Linked DNA regions of Homo sapiens: region 1 is linked to region 2. The links come from fine-mapping of genetic effects on gene expression. Tissue or cell type: subcutaneous fat. Region 2 holds a variant in brackets; the other region holds the start of a gene. All regions are shown on one strand. Distances are between the middles of the regions. Region 1 holds the start of LINC01337 (long intergenic non-protein coding RNA 1337). Region 2 overlaps MSH3 (mutS homolog 3).

Evidence for each region. PIP is the estimated chance that this variant, and not a neighbour inherited with it, causes the effect.
Region 1: LINC01337 starts here. The variant in region 2 is fine-mapped to the expression of LINC01337 in subcutaneous fat (FUSION, PIP 0.92).

What each region holds. Positions count from the first base shown.
Region 1 is chr5:80,621,164-80,624,201 of GRCh38, reverse strand. It overlaps LINC01337 (long intergenic non-protein coding RNA 1337), which reads left to right and starts at 1,678. Exons shown (of 2, transcript NR_125754.1): 1 at 1,678-1,794.
Region 2 is chr5:80,721,984-80,724,483 of GRCh38, reverse strand. All of the region lies in intron 8 of MSH3 (mutS homolog 3), which reads right to left. Among named protein-coding and RNA genes, the nearest start is that of DHFR, 68 kb to the right of the region's middle. The variant T/ATTTATTTT (reference allele first, on the strand shown) is at 1,390.

The DNA.
Region 1 (3,038 bases), 100 kb after region 2:
TATAAACCACATGAAGTGCTGTTCCTGTTACCCGGGGGAATTACTTTAATGACCGTTTCTAATCATCTGCTCCTGTCCTTTCTGTTCCCCAGCTGACCTCATGTGTACCAGGAAGTTACTCTGTAAATACAGTGACATTTCTGTTGAAACTTTTTCTTAAAAAAAAAAAAAAAGACAAAACACATTGGTGTGTGATATTTCAAATAGCTTTGTAGTAGATAATCAAATGTGAAATCTAATCAGAAGAAAAAATTAGATGGTCTCTACTTTGCCTAGGAGCCCTAACAAAGACAAACACAAGACAAAGCCTAAAGGGATAGAGTTTTGTCTGCAAGGAGGAAAAGACTTCATGGTGCTGGAGGTCAGGAAAACCTGGGGGGAAGAGAGATTTTTTTCAGCACCTACCAGCTAAAGTAATTAGGGAAAGGGATCCTGAATTAGACTGCCTCTTTTTCAGTGCCTAGTCATGTTCCCCTCCAAAAGGCCAGAGACAAGGAGTTAGGAGGCTTCTAGTTGACCTGATTCACTGTCCACAGGTTGACTTCTCACTGCCAGTTGTCTTTACTTTTGATATGTGAATTGGCAAAACTTAGACTAGGGATTCCTCCCCCTCCCCCACCATGCCATACCCCTCAACATTTTATAATGACTAATTCAAGCACACGGAAAGGTTGACAGAATTGTACAGTAAGCACCCATTTACCTATCACCTAGATCCTATCATTAACACTGCTATCTCTGCTTTATCACATATGGAGCCATCCATCTATCCATCCTATATTTTGACGCATTTTAAAGTTACAGATATCACTATTCTTCATGCCTACATTCTTCAGCTTGCCTATTAACTGTAGTTCACTTTTTTGGTAAAATTTACATAATGAAATGCAGATCTTAAGGATAACATCCTACAGGTTTTGATAATGGCATATACCTTTCTATAACCCAATCTCTTATCACCCTAGAAAACTCCCTCTTACCCCTTTCCAGTCAGTCCTCAACCCCAACCCCCAGAGGTAACCACTATTTTTTTTTTCTCATTATAGATTAGTTTTTCCTGTTTCTGAACTTCATATGAATAGAATCATATAGGATGCACTCTTTTGATCTGGCTTATTGCAGCATGATTTGAGTTTCACCCAAGTTGTTCCATGTATCAGTGGTTTGTTCCTTTTTATTACTACGTAGTGTTAAAAGATAAGTCAAGTCCTATTAAATGTTTTAAAGGGTTTGAGCAAACAGCAATTCACAAATTGGGCAGCTCCAAACCAAGAGTGGTTCAGGGCTCTACCAAGAGAATGCAAGGAAAAGGCTTTTGTAACTTGGAAGCAAGGCAAAGAAAATAATGGCTTGGTTATGACTGTGTAGTTGCCTTATTTGGTCTCCCCCCCGCCAAGTCCCTTGTTATATAAGTCAGTTGGTGGCTACTGATTGAACTTAAACTTCATTTTGCTTTAATGCAGGTATTTACAAAAAAAAAAAATAGTCCAAGTTAAGTTTAGCTTATCAAGGTCAAGTTTGTGTCCAAGGCTTAACTGGCTTTGTCTGCTGAAGAGATTTACAGTCCTGGTCCCCATTTTCTCTTATTCTAACGGTAATATTCCATTGTACAGATGTGCCAGTTTATCCATTCTTCTCTTGATTTTAAGGTGGGACTCAAGACTGGCCTTGAAGAGGCTAGAAAAGCAATGACTAAGGGTCAGGACAAGAACAAATACATATTCCAGGCAGAGGGAAAGCCATGAAGAAACTTCATCTCCAGATTCTAAAACCCAGGACAAGCCCTTAGCAAGGGTGGGTGAGTTGTTATTAGGCCTATATTAGTCCGTTTTCACACTGCTATGAACAACTGCCTGAGACTTGGTAACTTATAAAGAAAATAGTGTTTTTTTTGTTTTTGTTTGTTTTTTTGTTTGTTTGTTTTGAGTTGGAGTGTTGCTCTGTCACCCAGCCTGGAGCGCAGTGGCGCGATCTCAGCTCACTGCAAGCTCTGCCTCCCAGGTTCACGCCATTCTCCTGCCTCAGCCTCCCAAGTAGCTGGGACTACAGGTGCCCGCCACCATGCCAGGCTAATTTTTTTTGTATTTTTAGTAGAGACGGGGTTTCACCATGTTAGCCAGGATGGTCTCGATTTCCTGACCTCATGATCCACCTGCCTCGGCCTCCCAAAGTGCTGGGATTACAGGCGTGAGCCACCGTGCCCGGCCAGAAAAGAGGTTTAACTGACTTACAGTTCTGCATGGTTTGGAAGGCTTCAGGAAACTTATAATCATGGCAGAAGAGGAAGCAGGCATGTCTTACATGGCACAGGCAAGAGAGAAGAGAGCAAAAGGGGAAGAGCCCCTTATAAAACCACCAGATCTTGTGAGAACTTGCTCCCTATCATGAGAACAGCATGGAGGAAACCACCTCCACAATCCAATCACCTCCCACCAGGTCCCTCCCTCGACAGGTGGGGATTACAATTCAAATTACAATTTGAGATGAGATTTGGGTGGAGACATAGCCAAACCTTATCCAGGCCCCACCTCCACCAAGTACTCCACCTTTGCTGTGCCTTTCAATCTGTTCTCTTTCATAACCGCATCTAGTTCATGTCTTTTTGTCTCTTACTTAGACGGCTGGAGAAAACTAAACTGATAGTTTCTCAATCTCTGATCTCCGTCTCCAACAGTCTCTCATAAACATGGCCACAAAGACAATCTTTATTTATTTATTTTTTTTTTTTGAAATGGAGTCTCACTCTGTCGCCTAGGCTGGAGTGCAATGGCGTGATCTTGGCTCACTGCAACCTCCACCTCCTGGGTTCAAGCAATTCTCCTGCCTCAGCCTTCCGAGTAGCTGGGATTACAGGTGCCTGCCACCATGCCTGGGTAATTTTTTGCATTTTTAGTAGAGATGGGGTTTCATGATGTTGGCCAGACTGGTCTCGAACACTTGACCTCAAGTGATCCACCTGCGTCGGGCTCCCAAAGTGCTGGGATTATAGGCGTAAGCCACCGTGCCTGGCCCAAGACAATCTTTCTGAACAGCATCTC
Region 2 (2,500 bases):
GACTGTTATCTCTCATGTTAACAGCCTAGAATGAATCTTTCCATATTTTTTCATGTTCATATTTTGGTCATACACAAGCATATATAATATATGCTCATTATATATTACTACATTATAAAACTGAGATGATTTTATAAACATATTTCTGTGTCTTGTTCTCTTCACTTAATAATTCTTGAAAGTCCCTCCATAAAAATGACCTAGCTACAACTCCTTCTTTTTAATGGCTGAAAAATATTTCATAGTATATAGATGCCACAATTTCTTCAACTATTTCTTTGTTGTTTGATATTCATTTGGTGTTAATGTTTTGTCACATGTTGCTTTAAAACATTTTTATTTAAAAATATAAAACTTTAGTTACAGTTGTAGCCTGCACATATCCCTCACTAATCACATCCCTCTACGATTTCCAGAAGGAAACGCTGGCCGGGCACGGTGGCTTAATGCCTGTAATCCCAGCACTTTGGGAGGCCGAGGCAGGAGGACTGCCTGAGCTCAGGAGTTTAAGACCAGCCTGGGCAACATGGCTCTCTCTACAAAAAATACAAAAATTAGCCAGGCACGGTAGCACATGCCTGTAGTCCCAGCTACTTGGAAGGCTGAGGTGGGAGGATCACTTGAGCCCAGGGAGTCAAGGCTGCAATGAGCTGTGATCACACCACTGCACTCCAGCCTGAGCAAGAGTGAAACATCGTCTCAAATTAAAAAAAAAAATTAATAAAAGAAGCAAACATTATCTTGAATGTGATGTATATTACCATGCATGTTTTCATGTTTTATAAAAAACTGTATCATTTCATGCTTTTCATTTTGTATGAGTGGTACTTTATCATAACCATACAAATTGATTTTATCCTCAATGTTACACTATTTCTAAGATTTATACATGAAGATACATGTGCTTTTTACATTTTAACAGCAGCTAAGTATTTTATTATTTCTTATATTTTCTAATAAATTTAAGATCTGCTTTCTGAATTTATTCACCAGAATTTATCTTTGTGGATAGTGTGAAGTTATAAATACAATTTCATTTTCCATATAATTAATGATCAAAGCAGCAATTAGCATTCCATACGTCCCTGATGATTTATAATGTTACTTTCACTGCATATTGCATTTCTATATATGTTTTTGGATTCTCCATGCTGTTCCACTGGTCTTTTTGTCTATCTCTGTATCACGACCACAGTCTCTTAATTTCTAGGGCTTGGCATCTATATCTAAAGTGGCAAGGTCCCTACCTTGCTCTTCAAGATTGTCTTGGCTACTCCTGGCCCTTTGATTTTCTTTGTGAATTTTAGGTTCACTTACCTTCGGTCTTCACAAGAAACTTACTGGGATTACTTTATTTATTTATTTATTTATTTATTTATTTATTTATTT[T/ATTTATTTT]TAGACAGAGTTTCACTCCGTCGCCTAGGCTGGACCAGGGCTCATTGCAGCATCATCGACCTCCCAGGCTGAAGCAATCCTCCTTCATCAGCCCCAAGTAGCTAGGACTACAGATAGGCATTACCACGCCCAGCTAATTTTTTTGTATTTTTAGTAGATACAGGGTTTCGCCATGTTGCCCAGGCTGGTGTCAAACTCCTGGACTCAAGCGATCTGCCCACCTCGGCCTCCCAAAGTGCTGGGATTATGGGCGTGAGCCATTGCGCCCAGCCCTTATTGGTATTTTAATTTGATATGTAATGAATTAATTTAGAGAGAAATAACATCTTAAATAGAGGTATCACATTATCAAAGCTGGTATATTCTTCTATTCATGTCTATTATATCCAACAGTAATGTTCTGTAATTTCCTCCATGAAGGTTTTATACAGCTTTGGTTGTGCTCACTCTTAGATACGTACACATACCTCTCTCTGGTCTTTATCTGAAACAGGAACAGGTGTTGGGTGGGGCCCGGCCCAGCATCAGGGGACTCTACTGCACATTAAAGTTAAAGAACCACTGACCTATACAAATAAAAGACTGCTGCTATAATGAAAATTAGTAGATGATAGGAAAGAGTATTCCCAAAGCAAAGAGTATTTCCTTTGGAAGCTTATCTTATGTATATTGATGTAGGTATATCTAATGATCTAAGAACATCAAAAGTTATCTGTAAAGTAAAGCTATACTATAAACAACTGAGTTAAGATACTTTAGAAAGTTTCTCAATATTTTTTTCTTTGGCTCCCTATGCAGAACACTTTCTTGGTCTCTACATAAAACTGAAAAAAGACTTGAAACCATCCCCAGCACCAAAATAAAGCAAGCTTTTTTCTATTTTTATGATTTTCCTTCCTGAGCAAGGAGATCGTATGAGTTGATTTAAAAGTTCAATTACAATGCCTTGTAATAAATAAACAATAGTGAAACTTTATTACCTATTTTGCTTTACAATTAGGTTAAAATTCAGAAAGAAGGATTTATGACAGAAAATCTATAGTTTATATATTTTTTTTCTTCACAAAAACAGTTAAACAAATTCTCATGGGCATATGCCACACAACAATCA